4 linked regions of the Homo sapiens genome follow. The protein of the gene in region 4 interacts with the protein of the main gene of each other region in a biochemical or structural test. Each region holds a gene or a part of one and is shown on either strand. Other genes may lie near its edges. The genes, in order: RNF7, MARCHF5, TRIM25 and UBE2D2.

Evidence for each region.
Region 1: the proteins of UBE2D2 (region 4) and RNF7 form a complex in vitro, tested with the Homo sapiens proteins (5 studies listed by BioGRID).
Region 2: the proteins of UBE2D2 (region 4) and MARCHF5 form a complex in vitro, tested with the Homo sapiens proteins (7 studies listed by BioGRID).
Region 3: the proteins of UBE2D2 (region 4) and TRIM25 form a complex in vitro, tested with the Homo sapiens proteins (5 studies listed by BioGRID).

Annotation. Positions count from the first base shown.
Region 1 is NC_000003.12:141,733,308-141,741,439, forward strand, and holds the start of RNF7 (RING-box protein 2), read left to right. Parts: upstream 1-4,990; 5' UTR 4,991-5,034; coding exon 5,035-5,209; intron 5,210-8,132. UniProt on the Homo sapiens protein: Catalytic component of multiple cullin-5-RING E3 ubiquitin-protein ligase complexes (ECS complexes), which mediate the ubiquitination and subsequent proteasomal degradation of target proteins.
Region 2 is NC_000010.11:92,286,881-92,294,545, forward strand, and holds the start of MARCHF5 (E3 ubiquitin-protein ligase MARCHF5), read left to right. Parts: upstream 1-4,286; 5' UTR 4,287-4,614; coding exon 4,615-4,649; intron 4,650-7,665. UniProt on the Homo sapiens protein: Mitochondrial E3 ubiquitin-protein ligase that plays a crucial role in the control of mitochondrial morphology by acting as a positive regulator of mitochondrial fission and as an important regulator of immune response.
Region 3 is NC_000017.11:56,904,008-56,911,407, reverse strand, and holds part of TRIM25 (E3 ubiquitin/ISG15 ligase TRIM25), read left to right. Parts: intron 1-2,844; coding exon 2,845-2,940; intron 2,941-6,919; coding exon 6,920-7,153; intron 7,154-7,400.
Region 4 is NC_000005.10:139,557,133-139,564,512, forward strand, and holds the start of UBE2D2 (ubiquitin-conjugating enzyme E2 D2), read left to right. Parts: upstream 1-4,206; 5' UTR 4,207-4,659; coding exon 4,660-4,683; intron 4,684-5,111; exon of another isoform or gene 5,112-5,275; intron 5,276-7,380.

The sequences.
Region 1 (8,132 bases), on a different chromosome or scaffold from region 4:
AATTTTACCACAATTTAAAAAAATTTTAAATTGATGCATTGTGTGTCTGCTTGTGCATATACAGGAATTTCTGGAGAGTCTATTAATGGTACTTGGGTTTTTATTGTATTCCTGTTTCACTGTTTTTATCATTTGTGAGCTGTCAATTTTTAAAAACTTAAAATTGTTCAATAAATTATGATGAGCTTGTTAAACATCTGTAACAGCGCCCTTTGCTTGCTGTGTGACCTGGTGCCAAAAGTGTAGAAGAAGCACAGTAAATGCTGTGATTTCCTGGGAGGACATGAATATGTGGTGGCAAAGAGTGGCCAGTGAGAACAGAAAGATGAGTACATTTTTTCTAAGCACAGAGGGCAATCCAGCTGAAGAAGGTAGGGGAAGTTCTATCCAATTTCAGAGATGTTAACATGTGAGGAAAAGACCATCCATGGTACACTTGGATGACTGTGCAGACCAGTCTCACGAGGATCCTGCAGAGGGGTGCCGGGGATGGCCTTGACAGGTAGGTTGGGGCCATATTGTGGTGGGACTTAAATGAACAATCAGGACATTTAGATTTTGTTCTGATGATAATGTGGAGCTTTGGAACATTTTGAGCAGGAGAGTGTCAGGAGGTAGGAAAATTAACCAGGCATGTTAGATTGAATGGCAGTTAGACTGGGGAGGAAAGGCAGGGAAGAAGTCAATACACTGTAATCCAGAAGCAGGGTGATGAGGTTAAGCTCCACAATAGGAAATGGAAAGTTTGGTTGATTCTAGAAATTTCTAAAGAAAGAATGAACAGATAATTACGTATGAAGGGCGAGGAAGGGAAAGAGTCAACAGTGACCGTGGTTTCAGACCAGGACAGTTATACCTACGAGAGAATTACATCTCAGGCAGAGAAAGGGAATTGTTGAAAGAAAGCTAAATTTTGCAAGAAAGGAAATGAACTCCCTTTCACCTGTCAAGTTTGAAGCAACAATGAGCCATTCAAGCCGATGTCACCAATATCTAATAGAAAAAACTCAGCAAATTTCAAAAAAGAGACAAAAGCATACACACAGTGCTATACTCATCCGCACCTGCAGCTCAAGAAGATTCAATGTGGAGCAATTTTAGACAAATGGATTAAAATCAATCCCCAAAACTCTACTTTCTCAGGAAAGTCACCAGGTTTCTAAAGAAGGCATCATGAGATTTAGGCATGGGTTTTTCTATTTCATTTTTCATCTATTCTGAAATATTCTACATCACTTCTTTTTTTACATCCGAAATTGATTTACGTCACACAATTGATGATTGATGTCTACAATTAATGAAATATAATGTTGGGAGGATTTAAGGAATTCTCCAACAAAGGCTGATTGCCTTGGTCACATGTACGCTTTCAGTATGGGGTGTGTGTGTGTGTGTGTGTGTGTTGGGGGAGTGGGGTGGCAGGACTAATGATTTCCGGCCATAGCACCTTCACCTAAGACCAAGAGAGGCAAATGAACTGGAGGGTTCCATGTGACCAAAGAAGACCAGAAAATGCTCAGGGACCTATGGACATAAACACAATTATTTCCAAGAAAAAAGATGAGCCATAACTCTTGTCTGACAAGTGTGATGGAGAGCAGACTTGCTTAGAAGGACATTCCCAGGAGGAGGCAGCTTATACATTTCGGGCTAGCTTTGATCTCTAGCCTCTAGGAACAATTTTCTTGCTTTGTCATTATGGTTCCAAACATTGGTCCTTTTGGGGAAACTACTCCAGCTCAACAAGCAAATGTCATCAGGTTTGTTTTTGTTTTTATTTCTTTCCCTAGTACAGGAAAGAAGTCCAGAATATGCCACTATAGCATAAGGATTATTTTGAGCTAAAGGCATTTGAGAATCAGTGGATGCAGGAAGAGTTGTTTTATTTTATTTTAATTTTTTCCCTGAACTTACTTGCCTCTCAAAAGAATTCAACTGTCTTAAATTCCTTCCCAGCAATTTCAAAACCAGGGAAGATTGACCCTATCTTTAGAAACAGGAAGTTGGTACTGGGATAATAAATCACCTAATAGACTTTGTCACAAAACTATCATATCTCCCATCTATTCTCCCAAAGGCCTGTTTATCTTTTCTGAAAGTTTTTTCCCAGAAGTGCCCTTTCTCCTTCTCCCTTTCCTTTATTTAGACAGTATATAAGCCCCAAATTCTAATTGCTCCTTGAGTCATAATTTTCTGTGAACTCTGACTGCTTCAGTGAATAAAAATCTATCTTTTCTCCTGCTAAGCTGTGTTTTGTTGGTTTAATTTGCAATCCCCCGAATACTGAACCTAAGAGGGTAGAGTGAAAGTTTTACCTCCCTGGCAACAGGAAAACTTATTTTGTTAAAGATGAATGGCATAGAAGGGGGAAATGATGGTTGGAGTGAGGACCAAAGAAATAACAAAAATGTCCACTTGTACTGAGACAAGTTTTTCCTAAATATTTATTAGTTAGTCCTCAAATATTTTGCTTAAGAGAAGTCCTCAAAATGAAAGAAACTACGTCTTCAATGTACTGAGCAGAAGGAAAGGAGACTGTGCAGCTGAGGAAGCCAGGCCTGAAAAATAAGTGTGGGTTGTGTCACCACACACCAAGGACTGGTGAGAGGAACAATGCACAGTGGTGGAGTGGGAACTGAGCAGGCCATGAGAAGGACAGATATTTGTTTTGCTGCATTCAAGGCCACCTATAGTTCCTGCCCTTTGGGTGCTCATGATGGCAGACAAGCCCTCATGAAGGTGAACCAAAGGAAGGTAATCACAGGGGACCCGTTGGCCCCACCACGCCTGAACAGCTGCTGCAGCCTGAACTTTCTGCCTCACTCCTGCTTTCCTTTCTCCCCATGCATGCTTGCTTGTTGCACTGAACTCTGGCGCATCACTCATTCCTGTTCTTTTTGTCAGGAGAAAAAGTTCTCCTGACATGCAGTGTGTCAAAACTGTACTCATCTCCTCCACCTGCCTTCCCACTTCCCGCCCCTATGCTCCCTCCTGGCTTCTATTTTAAATTTCATTGCAGCAGACACCTCTCTCCAGATTTCATGCCTCAGCAAGGGCACATACCATTCCTCCAGCGAAACCATTCTTTTCCTTTTCACCATTTCATCCTTTTGACTTTCAAACTTCTCACCAACTGGGTGCGTTTTATCCTCCTCTGGTGCCAGCCTTCCTTCTTTGTTAGATACCTAGCATTTACAGCCATCTCTAGGCAGATGTGTGGTCGTTCAGTAAGAAGAGAACACATGTTTTGTGTGCTCACTCCAATGGGTGTCTGGCTTATAAAGTAGGTGTGGTCCAATTCCTGTCTGCTGCCACCATTGTGCCCTGCTCTGGCCAACAGCTCAGAGAGGTTTGCTCTCTCCACTGGCCCTGAAGACCTCCCATGTTCCCCCAGTTCAAACTTCACCTCTCTCATGAGGCTTTCCCTCACTGCATCCTCTACCTCTCTCATGAGGCTTTCCCTCACTGCATCCTCTACTCTCTCATGAGGCTTTCCCTCACTGCATCCTCTACCTCTCTCATGAGGCTTTCCCTCACTGCATCCTGTACCCTCACAGCCCTTAACACACCACTCAACAAATACGCATTTGCATCTAACCAAATGTGACCCTGTGTCCATATTTATGTTTCTGTATATTAATGCATTCTTGTTTCCCCTGCCAGGCTCCATTAGTCTGGTTAGCTTTTGCCCAGGTATCAGGAAATGAGGGGATGGGGAGAGGCTCAGAATCCAAACTTGACAGAGTAGCTGTCCACCACTAGGTGATGGTGGGGTCAGGCATCTCCTTAGGCTGGCTGTGCTTCTGTTTTCTTTTCAATGGAGATACCGGCTTTCTTGGAAACACATGTGATGGTGGGCTAGCCGTAGAAGCACTACTATAATAACGATGTGATCTTTGTCATTTCACTTCTTCAGACCTCATTAGTCCTACATATAAAAAGAGGAAGTTAAACTAGCTCAAATGTACTGAGCAGAAGGAATGGAGACTGTGCAGCTGAGGGAGCGGGGCCTGAAAAATAAGTGTGGGTTGTGTCGCCACACACCGGGACTCCTGGGATCCCGACCTCTTTTAGCGGTCAAAAGAGGGCAAACTAGTTGCCTAACAATATTTAGAGCTATTTCTCTCTTTTCACTCTCATTCTACGAGTGTACACCGGAGTTTCTAGCAACTACATGGTATGTGAAGTCATCCCTCTAATGATAACCTGTAATGAGGTTACTACTGTGATTTTTAATGAATACATTTTAAAATGTTTTAATTTCTTCAAAAGCAAACATTAATCTCTACATATGTGTGTATACATATACAGGAAATGTATGTATATATGAATATACATATATTCATTGTATATGTGTATATATATTCATACATAATATGTGTGTGTGTATATATATATATATTTACACATTTCCTACATAAATAAAAGTTCTTTAAGGTCCTAATAATTTTTAAGTGAAAAGGAGTCCTGGGACCAAAAAGTTTTGAGAATCACTGAACCAGATTTCTAGATCTTTAAGATCATTTATTCACTCAACAAATAATTGTGCCTCCTGTGGCCAGGCATTTTGCAGATACGGAGGATAATGTGGTGATAGCAACATGTTTCCTGCTCTGATAGAGTTTTACATTTGGGAGGGAAGAGACAAACGAATAAATTAACAAGATAATTTCTGAGAGCAGTAGGTTTAATGAAGCCGTAAAGCAGGACACATATCCCTGCACAATCTGTGCGCCTGCTCAGACGTAACACCCCGCAGCGCAGCAGGCAGATTCAGCGGCGTCGCCCCATAAGGGCCCGAGCCCTCTCAGTTGGCCTAGGACGGCGAGGGCGGGGCCTGCCCGCCCCCCTGGCGCTGGCGTCAGGTGACGTCACTGTGCCGCGCCAGCCAATCGTGGGCAGCCGGGGTCTAGGCACCACGGTGGCTGGCGGCCTGCGGGCGGCGCTGTGGCCCGTCGGGCGGCTCCACAGAGCCGCCCTAGCCTTCCGCCTTCCCCAAGCCAACGTCTCCGCCGTCGGCTCCGCGGCGCCGCCATGGCCGACGTGGAAGACGGAGAGGAAACCTGCGCCCTGGCCTCTCACTCCGGGAGCTCAGGCTCCAAGTCGGGAGGCGACAAGATGTTCTCCCTCAAGAAGTGGAACGCGGTGGCCATGTGGAGCTGGGACGTGGAGTGCGATACGTGCGCCATCTGCAGGGTCCAGGTGATGGGTAAGCGCTGCACGCGAGTCCAGGGCCGCCCTGCGGCCTCCGGGAGCCGACCTCGGGGTTGGGAAGGGACGGGCGTCCGTCAGAAGCCTCGGAAAGTGCCCTGCCTGGGAGAGTGGGTGGAGGTCGCCCTGCCCCGGCGCCGGAGGAACGCGGAGCCACGCTCCTGCTGCGGCTCCTGAGGGCTGCGGCCGCCGCCTGGGGCTGCGGGGTTGTGCAACAGGCGCCCTGCGCCGGGTGGTTGGTGTTCTAGGGAGAGAGACGGGCAATAAACGGAGTTAAACAAGGTAATTTCAGGTAGTGATGGGTGTGACCAAGAAAGTAAAACCGGGTGATTGTTGGGAACTAGCAGGAAACACTTCGGTTTGTGTGTCCAGCCCCAGCCCCACCTCTAAAAGCTCAACACAAGGTGGTCAGGGTAAAGGCCGTGATTCAGCAGTGAACTTTAATAGTCTTGGTCACCACCAAAGTGATGCTCCAGAGTCATCTTCCACAAAACGACACCCTTAGTTCTCCTCGAGGGACGCAGGAAAGTGTTCATAGCCATTGCATTTCCGGATTAGCTTACCGCCGCTCTTCGAATGGCTTTTAAATCTGGATTGATTTAAGACGGGTCAGATAGCACTAGCGTGGCTTGAAGGGAACAGTGTGGTTCAAGAATATCTAAGTTTCATGGAAGCTGAAGAATTGTAAGCCCTTTTTTCAGAAACGTAAAACTTCACCTCCATCACACCCCCCTCTCCATATTGGATGCCATTTCCTGGAGAAGATACTGTGCTGCTCTGAGTCATGCCTTTGTGGAGAACCCTCTTACAAATATGTCTTCTTTCTGTGATATTTTGAGTTAAAATATTAGACCAAGTGAAACTTTTCAGAACAGCTTAATCTTGTTATATTTTATATGGTTCTAAGAACTCAGACCACTTTGAAAAGCAGGTGCTATTTAAATGCAAGTTGTATTTTCAGATAGGGCATTTAAAATTACTATGAGACCCTCTTCAGTGGAATTCTTTATTGAGGGTAGTTAAAGAAAACGGACATTTCTATCGTTTGAAAACTGTGACTTGTCTTGAAAAATGAGAGAATTGGAGAACATACAGAGAATTGCTCACCTTAAGGGGGGTGAGACTGTAAACATACCAGAATCAAGAGATTTCGCAGTTTATGCTCTTTTGTCTTTTATTCCTAAGGGCTTGTTTCAAAGAGGATTTACAACAATTGGATTCAGATATTTTTATCTTTCTCTTTTGAAAGACCTTGATATTAGACATGACCCACTTATTTTACATGGATCACTTGAGCCCAGGAGTTTGAGACCAGCCTAGGCAACATCGCAGGACCCTGTCTGTACAATTAAAAATTAAAATAAAAAGCTGACCAGGCATGGTGGCCTCCAGCTACTCTGGAGGCTGAGGTGGGAGGATCCCTTGAGCCCAGGAGGTCGAGGCTACAGTGAGCCTTGTTCCTGCCACTGCCACTGCCACTATACTCCAGCTTGGGTGACAGAATGAGACCCTGTCTCAGCAACAAACAAACAAAACATATGAGGCTTTAAAAGTATCTAGTTTATTTGCCAGCAATACAGCTGCCCCTACCCCCACTTAGGAATCATAATTTCTAGTTTGGGAAGCATTTTTAACTGATCCAGGAGACTCTTTTTTTTTTTTTTTAAGACAAGTTTCGCTAAACATTTTATCTCCTAAATAAATTTCCTTTAGTTTAAAGGAAACTAAGCTTTCACTTAGTTCCTTTCCAGTTTAAAAATAATGTTCCCAAAGGGTATTTTCAAAAGATTTGTCTCCCAAAAAGCTATTTCCTCCCCAAAGGAAAAACATTTAAAGAGTAAGTGGAAATGTATAACCTGAAATAATGATTGAAACTTTGCAACAAATAAACTTTACTGAGAGATTTTAATGTAGGTCAAAGTATAGACTATAAATGACACATTTCATCATAAACTTTCTAATTATAGCAAGTATTCTGCTACTACAGGATCAGTCTTGCATATTTACAACAGCTGTACTTTGGGTTCAGGAAATTATTCTAGGCTAGACCTTTGTATTTTGTTTATGAGGTGTTAAAACCCACTTAGAGGTCAGGTGACAGCAGAAGGAAATTTTTTTTCCAGACTTCCTAGTCCTTACCCTAGCATCATTCTAAAAGGTGTTATTGTACTCCTTAGAAATGTGCTGTTTTAGATTCTAGGAAGATCATTAAAGCAATTTTTTATCTTTTATCTGAAACTTTAGGAATTTGTGTAGATTTGGGTCAGTTTTGATAATCTACATCAGAGCTATAAGTGTAATTTAGAGATTCCTAAATTCAGCAACAAGAACCCACTTAGTTCCCTTTCCTTAGTATTTGGAATTTGTCTCACACACTTGTGATTTATTATACTTTCTGCTCCCAAGACTTGCCTGTCAGCCCATTCTGATATGGATAACACTCTCTTCGTTTCCACTCTCCTCCCTTCATTCAGAAAGGAGTGATGATTACACAGTGAGCAAGTGCTGATGAAAAGGGGAATAGGTTTGCTAGTACAGCCAGTTATAATAGCCAGAGTAACCCTTCATGACTGTATCACCTTGGATATTTCACATAACTTTTTGGAGCCTTATTTTCCTAATTTGTAAAGAGGCAGTTGGGATCACCAACCTTAATATTAAAATTCTGTGATTGCACAGAACTAGCGCCAGATTCAGGTAGGATGTCTTCACTGTTATATCACAACCCTCATGATATTTAGGTGTTTGTCTACGTCCCCATTTGCTCCTGAGCCCCTTGAGACCCAGCCTTGGTCATTTTGGTGTCCCCAGTGCATAACTCCTTGCACAGAGGAGATAGTAATTGTGGGATTGAAGAAAACCTCAGGAGGCAGTGGTTGTTTTTAATCCACACTGAAGAGACTAGGGCAGTGGTGTTTTTT
Region 2 (7,665 bases), on a different chromosome or scaffold from region 4:
ATATTTAGAGCAGCTCATACTCAGTTATCTCTAAATCCATTACAGAATTATTAAAATAGTGGTGTGCGCCTATAATCCCAACTCTTTAGAACTCTACATCATCAAGCTTTGTTCTTGTCCTCTGAACTTGGGAGAATCTTTAAATATTTTCTGTAGGTTAATTTCTATTTCAAAATATATCTCTGAGGAAAAAGTTGTTTTTGTCTATAGTCATGCTGGTTACTCTCTTGGCTGAATATCATTTATCATAGACTTTTTTTTTTTTTTGAGACGGAGTCTCACTCTGTTGCCAGGCTGGAGTGCAGTGGTGCGATCTCAGCTCATTGCAACCTCCGCCTCCCAGGTTCAAGCGATTCTCCTATCTCAGCCTCCTGAGTAGCTGGGACTACAGGTATGCGCCACTATCATAGATTTTCAACCCTACATATAAATGCAGGAGTGCATTTCAATGTGGTTTTGGTCAGATTAAGGTCTTAATAATCTAGACTTTTTTCCTTCAAAATCAGAGAATATATTGTAATTCCAATTATTCTGAGTCTTATTGGAAAATGTAAGACCACAAAAAACAAAGCTGACAAACAATATTGAAATTCACACAATATGTGTCACCCATTTCAAATGTTAGGATTAATTTATTTTCTGAGTTTTATCAATCACTATTTTTGCCCATACTAATAAGAAACAAAGTTGATAATAAAGAATTATCAGTTATCTGTTTATATGCTTCTTTTCAGATACCCTTATGAACATTTTCTGTGGAGCTAATTACTCTTTTAAAAGCTTTATTGAGATGTAATTTATGTAACATTAAAATTCACCCCTTTTAAGTGTACAATGGGTTTTTGAGTATATTTACAGTTTTGCCACTATTACCATAATCTAATTTTATCTTATTTGTGATATAATTCACAAAATTATATAACCAGAACCATTATCTAATTCTAGAATACTTTCATCCCTCTAATAAGGAACCTCATACTCATTAGCAGTCACTCCCCATTTCTCCCCAACTCCTTCAGCCCTATGCAATCACTAGTCTACTTTCCGTCTCTATGGAGTTGCCTATTCTTGACTTTTCATGCAAACAGAATCATACAATATGTGGTCTTTGTGACTGGCTCCTCTCACTTGGTATAATGTTTTCAAGGTTCTTTCATGTTATAGCATGTATCATAACTTTATTCCTTGTTTTCTCCTAATAATATTCTATTGTATGATACACCACATGTGGTTTATCCATTCATCAACTGGTGGATATTTGGGTTTCCACTTTTTGGCTATCAAGAATAATGCTGTAGGCCAGGTGCTGTGGCTCATGCCTGTAATCCTAGCATTTTGGGAGGCCGAGGTGGGAGGATCATTTGTGCTCATGAGTTCGAAACCAGCCTGGGCAACATGGCAAAACACCATCTCTACAAAAAAAATTTTTTTAAGCCAGACATGGTGGTGCGCCCCTGTAGTCCTAGCTACTTGGGGGGCTGAGGCAGGGGGAGTGCTTGAGCCCCTGAGGCTGAGGATGCAGTGAGCTGGCGCCACTGCACTCCAGCCTGGATGACAAAGCGAGACTCTGTCTCAAAAAAAAAAAAAAAAAACCCAGAATAATGCTGCTATGAACATTCACAAACAAGATTTTGTGTAGACATGTTTTCATTTCTCTTGAAAATACCTAGAAGTGGAATTACTGGGTCACATGCTAATCACTCTTTAGACCAGTAACAGGATTTTTTTCTACTTTAAAAGGTTTTTGACACAGCCAGAAAGCTGATTTTTCATAAAAATGCAAACATAAAATCCATTTGTTGGTATAATAAGGTCAAGGTGCACAAGTCTTTGCTATCAACAAAAGGTATCATATTTTCCAATTTCAGTTGAAACAGACATTCTAACATTGGTTAAGATCTTAGAATCTTGGAGTTTGTACTAGTGTACTTAATCCATATGCTGGGATAAAATTCTGTTTTTAAGCAGGAAGTATATATCCAACTCCCATGGCTGACAACTGCTTAAGAAATAAGTACACAATAAGGTTAGACTGACACAGCACAAGGAGCAAAAAATAATAATTTAAAATGTTAAGACACCGGGCTGTGCACGGTGGCTCACATCTATGATCCCAGCCCTATGGGAGGCCGAGGCAGGCAGATCACCTGAGATCAGTTCAAGATCAGCCTGGTCAACATGGTGAGACCCTGCCTCTGCCAAAAATACAAAAGTTAGCCAGGCATGGTGGTGCGAGCCTGTAATCCCAGCTACTCCGGAGGCTGAGGCACGATAATCACCTGAACCCGGAGGAGGAGACTGCAGTGAGCCAAGATAGTGCCACTGCACTCCATCCTGAGCAACACAGCGAGACTCCGTCTCAAAAAAATAAAATAGACCAGGCGCGGTGGCTCGCCCCTGTAATCCCAGCACTTTGGGAGGCCGAGACGGGCTGATCGCCTGAGGTCAGAAGTTCGAGACCAGCCTGGTCAACATATAGTGAAACCCCATCTCTACTAAAAAACACAAAAATTAGCTGGGTGTGGTGGCACACACCTGTAGTCCCAGCTACTTGGGAAGCTGAGGCTAGAAGGATCACTTGAAGTCAGGAAGTGGAGCTTGCAGTGAGTCAAGACAGCGCCACTGCACTCCAGCCTGGGCAACAGAGCAAGACTCCATCTCTCAAAATCAATGAATTAATTAAATAAATGAATTAATTAAATAAAATATTAGACACTGGTCACATGCGGTGACTCACATCTGTAATCCCAACACTTTGGGAGACCAATGCGGGTGGCTCGCTTGAGCCCAGGAGTTGCAAGACCAGCCTGGGCAACATGGCGAGACCGCGTCTCTACCAAAAAAAAAAAAAAATATATATATATATATATATATATATGTATTATATATTATAAATGTATATATGTATTATATATTATAAATGTATTATATATTATATAATACATATATATTATATATAATACAAATATATATAAAATATTAGACACCCCGATTAAACTAAATACTCATTTTCTTTCCCTAGGAGGAGTGTGTGTGTATGTGTGTGGTGGGGGGGGGTGGGTGCTGTTTCTCAAAAACATATTTCAAAAATTGGAGGCCAAGTAAGCTTCTGGTCACATTTTTTGGGTTTGTTGTTTTTTCCCAGCAATGAACACTCTAGTTCAAATATACTTCGCAAATTTTGAACAGATAATGAAAAGTTGATTGTAAAATTCTACATATAAAAAGAGCTTTAAAAACACATTTTCATTTTTTAAAAAATCAAACACCTTGTAGCAGATATTAGACATAATCAAGGGAAAACTACCAGCGTCCTACCAATCACAGCCCTAGAGAAAACGCCACAGGTCGTCCAAAAAACGCATTCGTTTGAGCCGACAGCTCTTTCCTCCCGCCAAAGCTATCCCTCGAACGTCAGAAGCTGACCCAAGGAGTGACTGATGATTTCTCCTTTTTGATTCCCCACCCCCGCCACTCCCAATCCACCTGCTTGAAGGTGTCAACGCGACTAGAAACGGTTAACAGTGACCAGCAGCAGAGAGAGAAACAAACATCCCTGACAACCCACAGCTGAGTAAGCAAGAGCTGTTTATTCACCAACGTGTTCCATTTGGAGACTGTCGGCGAGCCCTGGAAAGCCCAGGCACATTTGAGAAGGTTCCTGGAGAGGGAGAGAATCATCTTTCCTTCCCCCAACTCCCCAGCCCCAAACACACAGAGAGACTCGGGTGGAAGCTGTCTGGTCCAGGCAGTCCCTATTTGCCCGCCCCCTCAAGAAGAACCTCACGCACCAAACCAACCGACCCCTCGCGGAGGTGGTGTAATTCCCCCAAAATGGGCTCTGCCGCAGGAGAGGCTGGCTCCAGCGCCGGGGGCTTCGGAAGGAGTTTCTGCCACCCCCACTGCCGCCACTGACCGCCCCGACGCCACGGCCGGGGCCGGGGACCCTGATAAGAAATGGCCCTTCAGCCCCCTCCCCTCACCTGGCTCGGTCCCACCTGAGGGCAAGAGCGGAGGCAAAAACAAACAGGCAGGGAGGGCTGACCTTGTTGCTACCGACAGTGGAGCGGCGCATCCTGCTGCTTCCTGGAAAGCGGCCCGAAAGACATTTTTTCCCCCTGGAGGAAGGAAACGGGAGGGCGCCGGCCAGACGGCGGCAGGCGCGGAGGCGTTGGTCCGGGCGGGCTGTGCAGCCTCTAGTGGAGACGGTCCGAAGACTACATCTCCCAGGCTGCTCTGGGCCGCCCTGCGTCGTAACCCTGGCGCGCACGGAGGCGGCGACTCTTACCTCACAAAGGTAGCTCCTCCGCCGGCAGCAACTCGGCGCCCGCGGTCCATGGACCGGAACCTCGGGCCGACGGACGGGAACCCGGGCCGCGATCGCCGCCTCCCCGCCTCAGGCTCCTCCTCCTCGCTCTCCGCCGCCTCCGCCGGACTCCCGCAGGCCCTGCACCGCCGCCGCCAGGCTAGCGGAGCTGCCCCGGGAAGCTGGGTGACGGGTTCGCGGCTGCCGCCGGACTGCGGCCTACTCCGCCGCCTCTCAGTGCTATTGTCCCTGGGCCTGGCCTTGAGCGGGTCCACTGGGGAAGGCCGTGTGCGCCGGCTCCGCGGAAGATGCCGGACCAAGCCCTACAGCAGATGCTGGACAGGTACGGGCAGCTGTGGGGGGGACCGGGAGCCGCCGACCCTCGCTCTGGCCCTGCCCGCGCCCGCCCTCGAGGCTCTTGGTGAGCAGAACCCGGCGTGCCGGGAGGAGTTCCACGGCCAGGGGGCCGTGAGAGGGGCAAAAAGTTTGGAGTCTAGACCTGGGGGAGGACAGAGCGAGCGGCCTGGGTCGTAGACTTTGGGTGAAACTTAGCTAAGGAGTGGCGTCTGGTTTCCTTGGAACCCCGTTTTGACCTGAGAGGGACTCCTGTTAATCCACAAAATTAGTTTTCCTTACCCTCTTCCCCTCCCCCTTCCCCCTCCCCAACTTGTGAAGTGTTTGTCAGCGATGTCACTGGCAAGAACCGGGTTATCTTTCAGGGGAATGACCCCCTTATAATTTTAAGTCTCTGTCTGAGAACCAATGATAAGCATTCTTTTGGAAAGCCTGATAGGCTGATTTCATTCTCCCACTTTCCCTGAACCCGCACCCCCCGTCCCCCCCGCCCCATCCCGTCCCCACCTCCGAACTGTAAGGTCAGAGTATCCGCAAGGGAGATTTAACGGTCAGACCAGAGTAGAGGTTATGGAAAACAGCCAAATGAGTCCAACGCTGAACATTTAGTGTACTTGACGATCGTTGAGTTCATTGAAGACGTTTCAGCTCGTACAGGAGTCCAGTTGCCCATTCTTGGGGGGCCCCAGTCGGTAAAACTCTTTGTGAAGTCGGGTGCACCGCCCTCTGCTGTTGAAATTCTGGTCCGTGGGTCCTACCATGAGTTTTTGGAGACTCTAGATCCACATTTCCCCCGAGCCAAGTCTTACTTCCTGGCATAGCAAGTTGTACAAGCTAATTCATGATGTTTGTGGTTGCTTACAATTCTCAATAGACACCACTTGCCACCCATTTCAGCAGGTGGTACCAACTCTTTGTACTCAGTAAAATTCCAACTGTAAGGTGTTAAATGAAGGCCCTCCCTTAATTGAGTTTATACCCAGTTAAATGCTTTTGGGCCTGCCACACCCAGAACACAAATGACCCAAGGGTACACATCCTTCCAGAGTGACAGACATTTTTTTGGAGCTTAGAATTTTGAGCCATCTCAGTTAATAGGAATTATGTCACTGATTTTTTTCAGTTGAGATAACTGGTGATTCATCCAGCCCTTGTTTCAGGTCAACATCCTGACAATTGTATTGACTGCTTTATATATATATGTGTGTGATATGTGTGTGGTTTATAAGCTCTTGGAAGCAGAAACTTACTATTGTTTATCTTGAATCCCAGAACAGAGCCTGGTACTCAGTAGGTAATCAGTAAGTATTTGTTGTATGAACTAATGCACAAACTTATTTGTCAGTTTCCCCAGTTGTCTAGGGGGTCTGATAATTTACCAGGTTTTCCTTTCATTGTAAATTGGCAAATTGTGGCAAATTAAAATATGCCCAGAGGAAACCACCTGCCACTGCCAGTTCTATTCTGTTGAGACCCTGTTCTGATGTGGGGTATTTTGTAGTTAATTTTTTTCCTTTGAGGGCCTCCTGCTTTTCATTTTTACATAGTGACTTTTTTTCTTCTTTTTTTGAGACAGGGTCTCTGTTGCCCAGACTGGAATGCAGTGGCAGTGGCAGTGGCATTGGCATGATCTCAACTCACTGCAACCCCCGCCTCCCAGGCTCAGGTGATCCTCCTACCTCAGCCTCCCTAGTAGCTGGGACCACAACACATACCACCATGCCCAGCTAATTTTTTGTATTTTTATAGAGCCAGAGTTTTGCCATGTTGCCTGTGCTGGTCTCAAACTCCTGGGCTCAAGTGATCCTCCCGCCTAGCCTCCCAAAGTGCTGGATTGTCAGGCATGAGCCATCGTGCCCAGCCTAGAAAAGTTCTTATGTCCAAAAGCTGACCTAACTTTTCATATGCTCTTTGGATATTTCCATAAAAGTAAGAAGCCAAAGAGTGAGCCTGGGCACGGTGGCTCACCCTTGTAATCCCAGCACTTTGGGAGGCCAAGGCAGGCAGATCACTAGAGCTCAGGCCTTTGAGACCAGCCTAGCCAACATGGTGAAACCCTGTCTCTACTAAAAAAAAAAAAAAAAATACAAAAATTAGGCAGGCGTAGTGGCGTGGGCCTGTAGTTCCAACTCTCGGGAGGCTGAGGCATGAGAATTGCTTGAACCTGGGAGACGGAGGTTGCAGTGAGCTGAGATCGCACCATTGTACTCCAGCCTGAGTGACAGAGTGGAACTCCATCTCAAAAAAAAAAGCTAGTGAGGCATTTAAAACTTATTAACAGAAATGCGAAGATTCTGGCTGCCATTTACTGAAGTAGGTGACTATGACACTGGCTTACTCTCATCTTTGTACTACTCTCATCTTTGTACTCTTTTGACATACCTTAAGGTAGATTTTTAACATGACTTTCAAAGACCGTTATTGTCTAGATTAGTAGTTGGCAACCTACTTCCATGTTAGAATTACCTGGGGAGCATTTCAGAATATGCATGGATGCTGGACTGTAAGACCAATAAGATCAAAAATTTCTGTAGGGTAGAGCCTGGGCATCTATATTTTAAAGCTTTTTAAATGTTTTAGATATGGCAGAAACCTACTGCCCTAAGTCCTAAGTCAGTGATATCTTTCATGATAAGAGATAGTAGGGTATAGTGAGTAAAGCTTGGGCTCAGAGATAGAAAGTATGAAATTCGAATTTTGCCACTTACTAGCTATGTGACTTTGAACTTAGATTCTGACACTATGTATATTATCATTTATAAAATGAGAACCCTACTTCACAGGGCTACAGCAAATGAAACATACATCTCTATAAAACAGCAAAACACTCTATGTTAGCCAAATAGAAGGCACTTAAGACTAATGTAAACCAGTTTGGCCATTTTTCCCCCATCTACTTTATGTTTACAGCTTTCTTCACCTGGGCTGGCCCTACTGCAAGTTGAACACAAAGATACTCAACATGGTTCACTTGAGGAATACCAACAGGGCCAAGAGACTAAAAT
Region 3 (7,400 bases), on a different chromosome or scaffold from region 4:
GAGTTTCACCATGTTGGCCAGGCTGGTCTCGAATTCCTGCCCTTGTGATCCACCCGCCTCGGCCTCCCAAAGTGCTGGGATTACAAGCGTGAGCCACCACGCCCGGCCCATATATATATATTTTTTAATCTTTTCTTTTAGAGACAGGTTTTCACTCAGTCACCCAGGCTGGACTACAGTAGCATGATCATAGCTCACTATAACCTTAAACCCTGGACTCAGGTGATCCTCCTGCCTCAGCCTCCTGAGTAGCTAGGACTACAAGCACGCACCACCACACCCAGCTAATATTTTAAAACATTTTTTGTAGAGACGGGATCTCACTATGTTGTCCAGGCTGGTCTTGAACTCCCAACCTCAAGGGATCCTCCCACTTCAGCCTCCTGAAGTGCTGGGATTACAGGCGTGAGCCAGGAGCCTGGCCTAAACTCTGCTGTTTAATCCTAACAACAGGCCTTCCTCTGCCAACACCTACCCCCCTGTCCTGACTTGCTGAGTCCTATAACAGGTCTGCTTTTTGAGCCCTGCTACTGCTGCTCATCACTGTTGGCAGAGCCAGTCTCAGCTGGGCAATGCCCTTAGCCTCGGGGGCTGGGTTGCCTTGGCCACTGGTGGGGTCGGACTTGAGACTCTGGTGCCTCCCATGTGGAAGACCCAAGTCTCTAGTCTGTGAAGGGATCCTCAGGATTTCAAAAAGTCCTTTGCCTTTGATTAGGGGATTATTGCTGCTACCAAAGTTTTTGGGTCACTTTCCTTTGGTCTGGAGTCGTGTGGGCACCATTCATGATGAGGGTACTGCCGCATGTGTTTGATTAATGGTGTATCAAATCTTTCAAAATATAGGGCTCAGGGTGTAGTGCTATGAGCAGCTCTTGAAAGTGAAGCAGTTGGCAGCCTTGGGGTGTTCTGAGGTCTCTTCTTGCTCTGAGGCCAGCAAGGCCGGATGTATGTAGGCCTGGTCTTTGGCCCACACCTTATCTTGGCCACTGTTAGAGGCCAGGTCGAAGGGCAGTGTCACAGAGGTCAAGTTTGAAACATCATGAGCAGCTTGGGCTTTTCGGATTGAGTTAGTGTGGCCTTGGTCCCTGCCTCCAACCCCTACATGTGACTGTCACTGGGTTGTTCAAATCTAGATTCAAGATCAGGTTCCGCCCAGAATATCTTGGGTGGAGTTGAAGAGTCTGGGAAGTGGAAGAGAGAGCCAGAGTATGTTGAGCCTGCTAGTTACGGGAAGGAAATTTTTTTTTTCTAGAAATCTCCAGCATGCTCAGTTTGGGCATGTGTCTATGATTTTAATATCGGGATCTTAGCTGTGCCAGTTACTAGTAGTGTAGCTGGGGCAAGTCACTTAATTGTTCTGTGCCTCAGTGTCCTTGTCTGTAAAGGCTGGGTAATTCCTACCTCATAGTGTTGTTCTTAGCTTTAAGTAAGTTAATACAGGTAAAGCACTAGAACAGTGCCTGGCATACAGTAAGTGCATAATAAATACTGGCTGCTGCTGTTATGGTGGTGGTGATTTTCCTTCCCATTTCTGTGCAGTATTCATCTGAGCAGGGAGGTAGGAGACTCAGATATTGATTATGAAAATTAATTGAAATCAGATGAGGATATTAGCTTCCTTCATATACAGTTTGCCTTTGTTTCTGGAGGTGGCTAGGACTGAGCAGATTTGCACCTGGGCTTCAGCCCCTGTGAGCTACTTCATCTTTTTTTTTTTTTTTTTGAGACAGGGTCTCACTTTGTCACCCAGGCTGGAGTGCAGTGATGCCATCTCAGCTCACTGCAGGCTCAACCTCCCGGAATCAAGCGATCCTCCTGCCTCAGCCCCCTAAGTAGCTGGGACTACAGGTGTGCACCACCACACCTGGCTAATTTTTGTATTTTTAGTAGAGACAGGGTTTTGCCATGTTGCCCAAGCTGGTCTCGAACTCCTGAGAGCAAATGATCCACCTGCCTGGGCCTCCTAAAGTGCTAGGATTACAGGCATGAGCCACTGCGCCTGGCTGGCTGATTCATCTTATTCCCAGCCCTTGGTGGTCCCAGTCTGCAGTGAGCCTTGGACTCTGATTTCTGTCTCCCTGCCCTGTGAGGCTGACAAAGGCTCCCAGCCTTGTTCTGGGATTGGCAGATGCCTCTGGAGAGAACATCCTAGATATCAGGCTTATCTCTCTGGGCCCCCTTCCCCCTTCTCCTGGACCTTGACTTCTTAATCCTCTGCTTGATTGGCTCTCCAGCATCTTTTAGCAGATCTCCCCGCTGCCCCATTATTTGGACTGCTTTCCTGGCTGTTTGCAGTGGGAGGATTGGTCTGAGTGGCCCCACCTGCCATTACCGAAGCAGCTGTCCCAGCTCGTTCTGTTCCTGTGTGAGCTTGGCCACCTTTCTGTCCTCCTTGCTTGAGTTTCATTGGCTGTAAAATGGGTAATTAGAGAAAAACTCATAATAATATAAGCTGGCATTTAGTATGTTTTTCCTAAGATCCAGGCATTGGGCTGAGTACTTACATTGTTTCAATTAATCCTCCCAATAGCCCTGTGAGCTGGGGACAGTTGTATCTATTTTGTGTCCAAGAAAACTGAGGTGAAGGACACAGTTGCACAGCTGGGAGTTGGGACTGGAACCCTGGTCTGTACTGTCCTCTGAAAAGGATGAAGGGAAGTAGTAAGTATTAGAATGCTTCAAAAAGCTCCAAGCAGGCAAGACTCGGGTGACAGGACTTGGGGTGGCAAGACTTGGGTGGAGTGGAAGAGGAAGGAATCTATCCTGTGGGATAGTTCCAGGGATGGCTTCTGGTGGGGCTGGGCTGAAGAGGTGCATTCTCAACCTCATTTGTTTTCCCTGCAGGCCACCCTGAGGCACAAACTAACTGTCATGTACAGTCAGATCAACGGGGCGTCGAGAGCACTGGATGATGTGAGAAACAGGCAGCAGGATGTGCGGGTGAGTGGCAGGGCTCTCCAAGGCCAGCCCTGCCCTGTGGCTTCGCTCAGCTTCCACGCGGGATGGGCGTGGCTCTGACCATGACAAGGCTGGTGTTGGGTGCACTCACAGTGTCAGGATGAAACATCAACCTTGCAAAGCATGCAGACAGCTGTGTGTCTGAGAGAGATCCTTTGCAAACCCAAACCAAAAATTACCTATAAGCCCAACTGTGGGGGAAATCATTATAAATTAGGATTAAAAAGTAGTAATTCAGAAAAATGGTTATGATATAAAGTGGGAGAAAAAGAGGAAGCAAAAGTATATAGCTCATAGGGTTGCATCTATTTACAAAAAGGAAGTATATTAGTTTCATAGGGCTACTGTGACAAATTGCCAGAAACTTGGTGGCTTACAACAACAGAAATGTATTCTGGCAGAGTTCTGGAGGCCAGAAGTCCAAAATCAAGATGTTGGCGTGGCCACACTCCCGAAGTCTCTAGGGGAGAACCCTTCTTTGCTTCTTACAGTTTCTGGTGGCTCAGGCATTCCTTGGCTTTTGACTGCATCACTCTGATCTCTGCCTCTGTCTTCACATACCTGTCTCTTCTTCCCTTAGTGTCTTCCATCTCCAATAAGAACCCTTGTCATTGGATTTAGGGAGCACCTAGGTAATCTATGATGATCGAATCTCAAGATCTTTAATTGCATCTGCAAAGACCTCTTTCCTAAGTAAGATTACAGTCACAGGTTCTGGTATATGGACATGTCTTTTGGGGGCCCAGCATTCAACCCATTACAGAGAGCATGGAAAGAAACTGAAAGGGAATATTATAGAAGGATCATAGTGGAAGTGTTGGAGTGGTAAATTAGGAATGGTTTTGTTCCCCCTGTTTTTCAGATTTTCGATACGTTTAAATTGCTTTTAAATGGAAAGATCAGATTTTTACCCTTTTTCAGAGCTGCAGCACCAGTTTTATTGCAGCAGTTATGGTTTCATTAGATGAGATCTAGGTTAGAATACCAGCTCTGTCACATACTAGTTTATGTTGCTTTGGTCATGTTGACAGATCTTTGAACCTTCGTTTCCCAATTTGCACAATGGAATCACAAGTTCTTTCTGAAGATGACTGTGAGACAAATGAAAGAATGCACGTGAAAGTACCTGTATTTGTTAGAGGGCAGGCTATACTGCTGTAACAAAGATACACCAGAATTCAGAGGCTTAAATATGATTGAAGTTTATTTTACCAACTGACAGTCCAAACCCACACATGAGTAACCCAGACTAAGGGTTCATGTGATCATTCAGGGATTAAGGGTTCTCCCTTCTTATTACCCTACTATTCCACAAGGTATTGTCCCAGCCTCTTTGGTTGAAGCTGGGTTACCATTACATCTTTGTTCTAGCCTGTGACAAAGGGACAAAAAGGAGGTGGAGGACAACAAGCAATTTTCCTTTACACAAGTGACACAGTGTTGCACATATCACTCCTGGGCATGGGTCACTGGAAGGAGTTTTGTCACATCGCCTAGTCTAGCTGCAGGGGAGGCTGGGAAATGTAGTCTGAGTAGCCACACGCCCAGATGAAACTCCAGGGATGTTCTCTTACCAAAAGGAAAAAAGGGAAAATGAACACTGGGGGACACTTGTAGTCACATTAGAAGTTGCACAGTGAAAGATTGGCAAAGAAGGCTGGGCGCAATGGCTCACGCCTGTAATCCCAGCACTTTGGGAGGCCGAGACGCATGGATCACCTGAGGTCAGCAGTTCAAGACCAGCCTGGCCAACATGGCGAAACCCCATCTCTACTAAAAATACAAAAAATTAGCCGGGCGTGGTGGTGCATGCCTATAGTTCCAGCTACTCAGGAGGCTGAGGTAGGATAATTACTTGAACCCGGGAGGCAGAGGTTGCAGTGAGCCGAGGTCATGTCATTGCACTTCAGCCTGGGTGACAAGAGTGAAACTTCATCTCAAAAAAAAAAAATATTGGCGAAGAAATACTTGAATTCCTCTTTTCCAGTCTACTGTCCTTCTTGTGTGTTTTTCTCTTTGTTATGTTTGATTCTGAGCTATTGTCTTAGTCTGTTTTCTGCTGCTATAACGGAATACCACAGACTGGGTATTTGCAAAGAAGAGAAGTTTATTTGGCTCAAAGTTCTGGAGCCTGAGAGGTCCAAGAGCATGCTTCCAGCATCTGGTGAGGATCATCCATAGCGGAAGGATGGAAGGCAGGAGAGCGGGACAGGAAGAAGGAGGTCAAACCCTGTGATAAGAATATGAATCCATTCATGAGGGCAGAGCCCTCGTGATCTAATCACCTCAGTGGCAATTAAATCTCAGCATGAGCTTTGGAGGAGACATTCAAACCATAGCAGCTATTGAGGCTACCCAAGATGTGAAACAAAATTGCAGCTACTAAAGCAGTGCTGTCCAGCAGAAATACAGTAGGAGTGCAGATGTCATTTTAAGTTAATTTGAATAGTACATGAGATTTATTGTATTTTATTTATCTATCTTTTTTAGGACAGGTCTCACTCTATCACCCAGGCTGGAGTGCAGTGGAACAATCATAGCTCACTGCAGCTTTGAACTCCTGGGCTCAAGTAATCTTCCTGACTGAGCCTACTCCCCTTCACCACCCCCACTCTCCAGGAATACAGTCCATCTAATTTTTTTATTTTTATTTTTGTAGAGAAACAGTCTGTCTATGTTGCCCAGGCTGGTCTTGAACTCCTGGCCTCAAGCGATCCTCCTGCCTCGGTCTCCCAAGGTGCTGGGATTATGAGCATGAATCACTGCACTTGACTGAGATTAATTTTAATATTATAGTTTATTTAATTTGGTATATCTTAAATATTATTCTTTCAACATATCATCAATTTAAAAGTTTTAAGATATTTTACATTCCTTTTTTTGGTGTGAAACCCTTGAAAGCCAGTATGTATTTTACACTCATGGCAAGTCTCAGTTTGGACTAACCACATTTCAAGTGCTCAGTAGCCACATGTAGCAAGTGGCTATGTTATTGGAAAGTACAATCCTAGAGCATGATATTCTCTAGAAATTTTCCAGAGCTGCATCCTGACTTTTTGTTTTGTTTTATTTTATTTTATTTTTTTGAGATAGCGTCTCGCTGTGTCTCCCAGGCTGGAGTGCAGTGGCACGATCTCGGCTCACTGTAACCTCTGCCTCCTGGGTTCAAGCGATTCTCCTCCCTCAGCCTCCTGAGTAGCTGGGACTACAGGTGCGCGCTGCCACAACCAGCTAATTTTTGTATTTTTAGTAGAGATGGGGTTTCACCATGTTGGCCAGAATGGTCTTGATCTCTTGCTGACTTTTATTTTTAAAAATTGCCCATGAACCACCTTTAGCTTAAGAAATAAAATATCATCGATGCAGCCCCTCCCATCTGTTTCTCCCTTATTCTATCCCTCTTCCTCTCTTCCAGAAGTAACCACTCTCCTGAATTTATTTATTCATTCCCATGCGTTTCTTTGTGCATATAGCCATTCTGTTTGTTTCTAAGCTTTATTGAAAGAGCATCATATGGTGGATCTTCTTCTGCAAGTTGTTTTTCTCTCATGGAGATTTATCCAGGCATAGCTCCAGTTTATTAATTTTCATAACTGTTTAATATTCCATCCTATGAATAGCTCCCAGTCTTTGCTTCAAGTCTTCTTCTGATGGATGTTCAGGTTGATTCCAGGTTTTTGCTACTTCAGACAATGCTGCCTGTGAACATTCTTATGCATGTCTCAGGGGCAGGTGGCTGCAATTTTTTGTAGCACATATTCCTAGGACTGGAGTTGCCGAGTCATAGCCTATGAGCACCTCCAAATTTATTAGATATTGCCAAGTTGCTCCCCACAGTGGTTTGTTCTCCCACAAAGTACAGGTAAGAGTTCCTGGAACTCCACATCTCACCCATGCTTGGGGCTGCAGCCTTAGCACTTTTGCCCCTTTGACGGGCATCCTCTTACCTTGGCCCTCTCAGATGACTGCAAACAGAAAGGTGGAGCAGCTACAACAAGAATACACGGAAATGAAGGCTCTCTTGGACGCCTCAGAGACCACCTCGACAAGGAAGATAAAGGAAGAGGAGAAGAGGGTCAACAGCAAGTTTGACACCATTTATCAGATTCTCCTCAAGAAGAAGAGTGAGATCCAGACCTTGAAGGAGGAGATTGAACAGAGCCTGACCAAGAGGGATGAGTTCGAGTTTCTGGAGGTAGGTCGCCACAAGGCATTGTTGAATGTTTTTTTTTTTTTTTTGCCTGATGTCATGCTGTTGATGATAGGGCCCTCAAGGAGCGGGAGACTGGAAGAGGTCACTGGAAGCATCCCTGAGACACACGCTGTATTAGTTTTCTGAGCTGGGCAACAACTTACCACAAATGTAGGGGCTTCAAAAAACACATATTTATTCTCTCAGAGTTTCTCTGGCTCAGGAATCTGGACATGGCTTTATGGGTGGC
Region 4 (7,380 bases):
AACTTTTATTTCTTTTTTGAGACTGAGTTTTGCTCTTGTTGCCCAGGCTGGAGTGCAATGGTGCAATCTCGACTCACTGCAACCTCCGCCTCCCGGGTTCAAGTGATTCTCCTGCCTCAGCCTCCCAAGTAGCTGGGATTAAAGGCAGCACCACCACGCCTGGCTAATTTTGTATTTTTTTTTAGTAGAGACATGTTTCACCATGTTGGCCAGGTCAGTCTTGAACTCCTGACCTCAGGTGATTCACCAGCCTCGGCTTCCCCAAGTGCTGAACCTTGATATGAAAATTTGGTGAAGATATTACAAAAAAAGAAAATTATAAATCAATATCCCAGCTGGACGCAATGGCTCACACCTGCAATCCCAGCAGTTTGGGAGGCCGAGGCGGGCAGATCATCTGAGGTCTGGAGTTCGAGACCAGCCTGGCCTACATGGTGAAACCCTGTCTCTACTAAAAAATACAAAAATTAGCCAGGCGTTGTGGTGCACACCTGTATCCCAGCTACTTGGGAGGCTAAGGCAGGAGAATCACTTGAACCCGGAGACGGAGACTGCAGTGAGCCGAGATCGCACCACTGCACTCCAGGCTCGGCAATAGAGTGAGAGTCTGTCTCAATAAATAAATAAACAAACAAACCAATATCCCTCATGAACACAGATGCAAAAATCTGCATATCTGTTAATGCTGCAGTTTCATTTCTAGGAGTTTATCCTAAGGCACTCTTAGAGCTGTATAAAGATTAAGAGTCTGTTTATCAAGAAGAGTCATATGATTTTTTTTAAAAAAAGATCCTGTTTCTACAAAAAATAAATAAAAATTAGCCAGGCATGGTGGCTCCAGCTTATAGTTCCAGCTACTCAGCGGGCTGAAGTGGGAAGATCACTTGAGCCAGGAGTTGGAGGCTGACGTGTACCACTGCACTCCAGCCTGAGGGAGAGACAGTGACCCCATCTCAAGAAAAAAAAAGAAAAAAGATGAACTATAGGATAGCTAGGATATTTACCACAGCATTATTTTAATAGTAAAAATGGGAAACAAATGTTCCCCAAAATGTGACCAGTTAAATAAATATGGTACATTTATATGCTAGAATACAAAGCCATTAAAATAAGGTAGAAATATTTGAAACAGGAAAATTCACGATATATTGTTTATTTTCTTATTTGTTTTTTGAGACAGAGTCTTGCTCTGTTGCCCAGACTGGAGTGCAGTGGCGCGATCTCAGCTCACTGCAAGCTCTGCTTCCCGGGTTCACGCCATTCTCCTGCCTCAGCCTCCTGAGTAGCTGGGACTACAGGCGCCCGCCAACCAAGCCCGGCTAATTTTTTGTATTTTTGGTAGAGACGGGGTTTCACCGTGTTAGCCTGGATGGTCTTGATCTCCTGACCTCGTGATCCGCCCGCCTCGGCCTCCCAAAGTGTTGGGATTACAGGCGTGAGCCACCGCGCCCAGCCAATATATTGTTTATTTTCAAGGTAGATTACCAAACAGTATTATGCAATGACCCCACATTTTTCAAAGAAAAATATGTATTGATATTTATATGTAAGGGAAAAAAAGACTAGAAGGACATTAACCAAATGTCAAAAGTGGTTAATTATTGGATGATGAGAGTGTGGGTGACTTTTATTTCCTTCCTTTACTTATAGGTATGTCTTACAACAAATACATATTGCTTTTTTTTTAAGAGAGGATCTTGCTCTTTCACCACACCTGAGGTGCAGTGGAACCACCACGGCTCACTGCAGTTTTGACCACCCAGGCTCAAGCTATCCTCCCCACCTCAGCCTCCCAAGTAGCTGGGACCACAGGTGCGTGCTACCATACCTGGCTAATTTTTACAATCTTCTGTAGAGATGAAGTCTCTATATTGCCCAGGCTGGTCTGGAACTCCTGAGTTCAAGTGATCTTCCCGCCTCAGCTTCCCAAATTACTGAGATTACAGGCGTGTCCAGGAGCTTTTCTAATACAAAAGTTATTACTGAGAATAACTTTAAAAAAAAAATCTGTCGGCCGGGCGCGGTGGCTCACGCCTGTAATCCCAGCACTTTGGGAGGCCGAGGCGGGCGGATCACGAGGTCAGGAGATTGAGACCATCCTGGATAACAAGGTGAAATCCCGTTTCTACTAAAAATACAAAAAAATTACCCGGGCGTGCTTGCAGGTGCCTGTAGTCCCAGCTACTCGGGAGGCTGAGGCGGGAGAATGGCCTGAACCCGGGAGAAGAGCTTGCAGTGAGCCGAGATAGCGTCACCGCACTCCAGCCTGGGCGACAGAGTGAGACTCCGTCTCAAAAAAAAAAAAAAAGAAATCTGTCCAGTGGAGATTTTTGTACCCCTCCCATCACATTTCTTAGGAAGAAAATATCTGGGGCTGTGAGATGTTCCATTTTACCCTCAACCTCAACTATACCCACCCTGAACCACTGGATACAATTTTCTCTCACTGGGTGCACGGTGCTTCTGTCCTAATGGTCCAACCTTCTCAGTAGGTGAGGCAGTATGAGCTTTGCCACTCACCTACTGTGTGGCTTTTGGCAAGATCCTTCCCTTAGTTGGGCTCCAGTTTTTTCTTCTCTATAAATTCAGGAGCTAGAATCAATGATCTGCAAGGTCCTTTCTGGATGTAGCGAAAAGGAGACATTTAGAATCAGAAAACGCCAGGGGTAGATTTCAGAATGTGGGCATTACCTCCCAGCAAAATATTCTTTACTATTCTCCTGTGTAAGGCCTCTAGCCCTGGCTTGGCTCCGTATCTCACACCAGTCATGGTGTAGGGCTGGGCACAGGGTAGGTGCTCAGTGATTTAGCTTTTTGTCTCCATCTCCTAAAAAACAATTCCAAATATTCTAGGTTTGATTTTCAGCGGACCCTCCTGATGGGTATCTGGAGCACGAGGTTGGTTTTTTTTTTTTTTTTGGAGATGGAGTTTTGCTCGTCGCCCAGGCTGGAGTGCAATGGCGTGCTCTCGGCTCACTGCAACCTCTGCCTCCTGGGTTCCAGCGATTCTCCTGCCTCAGCCTCCCCAGTAGCTGGGTTTACAGGAACCTGCCACCACTCTCGGCTATTTTTTTTTTTTTTTTTTGAGACGCATTCTTGCTGTTGCCTAGGCTGGAGTGAACTGGCGTGATCTCGGCTCACGGCAACCTCCGCCTCCCGGATTCAAGCGATTCTCCTGCCTCAGCCTCCCGAGTAGCTGGGACTACAGGCGCCTGCCACCATGCCCGGGTAATTTTTGTATATTTAGTACAGAAGGGGTTTCACTGTGTTGGCCAGGCTGGTCTCGAATTCCTGACCTCGTGATCCGCCTGCCTTGGCCTCCCAAAGTGCTGGGATTACAGGCGTGAGTGACCGTGCCCGGCCTAATTTTTGTATTTTTAGTAGAGATGGGGTTTCACCATGTTGGCCAGGCTGGTCTCGAACTCTTGACCTCAGGTGATGCGCCAGCCTCAGCCTCCCAAAGTGCTGAGATTACAGGGGTGAGTCACCGCGCCCAGCCGTTGGTTTTAACTATTTGGGGCACACACTGTGATTTTTTTTCTGACGCAGCTGGTACAGTGCTTGCTTGTAACAATTTGCAATTCACTAAGCTGAGCAGAGTCTGGACACCTCGAAGGCACACATACATGCCAGTGGCTGAGAACACAACATTCAAATCCTCTCCATCTGGGGCCTTGGTCCGGAAGGCCAATCTCACTGCAACCCGAGCGGCTATGAGACATCTCCCTCGTGGCAGGTGCCCGAGCTGTAGCCACGCGGCCTCTGGAAAGAGATGTGCTAAGTCCCAGGACTTCAGAAGAGCTCTGTGACCTTGGCCAAGTCCCTTCCTCCTTCAGGAGCGCTGCAGTGGGCCTAAGTGCCTCCTCCCGGGACTAGTACGGGGACGGTCGTGAGATCTGGACAACATTCGCCTTTTAATATTTATTGATCTTTTGTGACACGCGCGTGGGTTTCCATCAGCAATGAAGTCAACGGTCGCGGCGCTGGAGCCTGCAGAACTCGCGCTCTAGATCTCGCGAGATCTCCGCCCAGGGCTTCGCAGCGTCACGCCCTCCGGGGCCGTGGCGGCGACGGCGGTGCGTAGCTTACTCACAGGGGCGGCCCGTATCCCTCCGCCGCCGGCGCGGCTCGGCCCTCCCTCCCCTGGCCCGCCAATCCCCGCGCCTCCCGACCTGCCCCTCGGTCGGGCCCACCCCGTGCTCCGACGGCCCCACCCCGGCGGCGCAGCCCGCCCGCCCGCGCGTCCCTCGGTCCACCTGCAGCAGGGAGGAAGACAGGCAATCCCTCCGGCTGTCCGACCAAGAGAGGCCGGCCGAGCCCGAGGCTTGGGCTTTTGCTTTCTGGCGGAGGGATCTGCGGCGGTTTAGGAGGCGGCGCTGATCCTGGGAGGAAGAGGCAGCTACGGCGGCGGCGGCGGTGGCGGCTAGGGCGGCGGCGAATAAAGGGGCCGCCGCCGGGTGATGCGGTGACCGCTGCGGCAGGCCCAGGAGCTGAGTGGGCCCCGGCCCTCAGCCCGTCCCGCCGGACCCGCTTTCCTCAACTCTCCATCTTCTCCTGCCGACCGAGATCGCCGAGGCGGCCTCAGGCTCCCTAGCCCCTTCCCCGTCCCTTCCCCGCCCCCGTCCCCGCCCCGGGGGCCGCCGCCACCCGCCTCCCACCATGGCTCTGAAGAGAATCCACAAGGTAAGCGGCCGGAGGTCGGCTGCGCTGCTGGCCAGCTGAGCAGGCTGCGGCCTGCACTTCCCGCCGTAGTCTCCGTCGGGCTCGCGGCCTCCTTGGATCTTGCTGCCGGTGCTGGCCCCTCGGGGCGGCCTCCATACCCCACTCCCAGTGATGGCGCCCGTGGAGGCCCCGGCGCGCAGCCCGCGCTTAGGCCGGAGGTGCTCTCGCGGCCTCAGCGTTCCTCCCCGGCTGCCCTTCCAGGCCCGCATGGTGTGGACTCTTAGGGCTTCTCTCCAGTCTGGGACTGCCGCTGCACTTGAGGGCCATTGTCGGGCCAGGATGGCGGGGTTGGGGCCGAGGGGGGCGCTGGGGCGTTGGGCGGCCCCTTCGACAGAGGTCGAAAGGGCTTCTCGCCCCATTTCTGTTCCCTCCTCCCACACCTGCCCTAGCTCCCTCCACAAAACCGCCTGAGCTCGGGCTGACAGAGGAAGCCGTTTTGCCCGATCCACAAGTATATCCTGAGTTCACTTACCTCTTGGGTGGCAGCACACATCGGTCCACCCTGCTTGTCCAGAAACTGTTAAGAGTTGGAAGTTCAGAAGAAAAAAAAAAGGTGACTTAATGAGGGAGGAGGGAAGTAGAGGGAGAATCATTTTATTCCTTGAGGTTGCTGTATGTAGTTAGAAACTAACACTTCCGTTTTGCAGGATTGGATCTAATAGAAAAGCTGTACATTGGCAAAGGTAGAGGTAGAAACCTGAACATTGAAAACCACCAGAGAAATTATACAAAAGTTCCTTTCACAGCCTCTTCGCAAAATGGACTTGACGCTATTAGGTGATATGTTTACCGAGACTCTTAACTGGGAAGGGGTTTTACTAGATTTTGTATTAAAAAGGATTTCTTTGCTCTTTAAAGTGAAGGGTTATTTAGTTATCAATAAGGAGGTTTTCCTAATAATACATCTAGACTATAAGATTGGCTTAAAATTTATTTTTTTTCCCTTTCTGATGTTGTAACCTCTTAGTGCCACTTTCATGTTTTTTTTCTTAGAAGTAGGGAGGCACCACTATTAATTTCTGTTTGGTGTTTCACTTGGCTACTCAGATTGGCTATATTAAACCGGTAGCTACTTTTTTCTTCAATACATCTTTTTCCTTTTAGTGGAGAACGGGGTCTTGCCGTGTTGTCCAGGCTGGTGTGGAACTCCTGGGCTCAAGCTAGCCTCCTGTCTCTGCCTCCCTTAAGTGTTGGAATTACAGGCATCAATCAGCCACTGCACACGGCCTATACCTGTAGCTACTTAGAAGTAGGTACTGGGGTTATCCATTCTGAATGATGGGATGGGGATGCAAGAGGAAGAGAACCAGTTTTTAGCTTGTCTTAAACTAAGTCAGAATACAGATTGATGATTTAAACACCTCAGCTCAGCGGTTGGTCCTCATTTCATTTTTGCTCAAAGACAGTGTGGAATCAGTCCCATTGGTTACTATAATTAGGTTAGCTCCTTAACTTCTTTTGACTCTGATTTCTAACAAATGAAGAAGGGCAGATTTTAGACAATAAATCTTGTACTAAAATGAAATGGTATTTGTTAAATACCATAAAGAAGCTTGAACCTTAAGCAAAGATGTCTTAAAGAACCGTTTAAGGGGCAGGGGAGCACACTGAGGAGTAGTCATCCAAAAAAAATATATACATATGTATTTTAAAGGCTTTTAGGAATTGCTAGGTCCTTATAGAATCTAACTGGGAAGTTATCAAATACCTGTAGAAGCTTGTCCTCTTATTTTATAACCTGAGAAAGAGCAAGTGGGTATAATGTGTAATAATTTACAGATAAAGAAATGTAGACCTGCCGGGCGCGGTGGCTCACGCCTGTAATCCCAGCACTTTGGGAGGCTGAGGTGGGTGGATCACGAGATCAGGAGATCGAGGCCATCCTGGCTAACACGGTGAAACCCCGTCTCTGCTAAAATATACAAAAAAAACTAGCCGGGCTTGGTGGCGGGTTCCTGTAGTCCCAGCTACTCTGGAGGCTGAGGCAGGAGAATGACGTGAACCGGGGAGGCGGAGCTTGCAGTGAGCCGAGATCGCGCCACTGCACTCCAGCCTGGGCCACAGGCGAGACTCCCTTTCAAAAAAAAAAGAAATGTAGACTTTAATCTCTACATTGAATTATATGTGTAACGGACTTTTTCAGAGAGGGAACTATCTCTTTGACACAAAACATACGTTTTAATTAATAATACTTGCTCTGGTAATATAGTTTCTTATGAGTTGCTACATATTTTCTAGAATAGATTTTCCTTAAAATATGCCTTTGTAAGATTTTTTTAATAAAATCAAGTTTAGAAATAATTTGAACTTTTTTGGGGGATAGAGTTTCAGTCTTGTCGCCCAGGCTGGAATGCAATGGCACGATCTCAGCTCACCGCAACCTCCACCTCCTGGGTTCAAGTGATTTTTCTGCTTCAGCCTCCCGAGTAGCTGGGATTACAGGCACGCACCACCACACCTGTCTAATTTTTGTGTTTTTAGTAGAAACGGGGTTTCACCATGTTGGCCAGGCTGATTTCTAGTTCCTGACCTCCGGTGATCCACCTGCCTCAGCCTCCCAAAGTGTTGGGATTATAGGCGTGAGCTACCGTGCCCGGCCTGAACTTTTTTTTTTTTGGAGACGGAGTCTCCCTCTGTCGCCCAGGCTGGAGTGCAGTG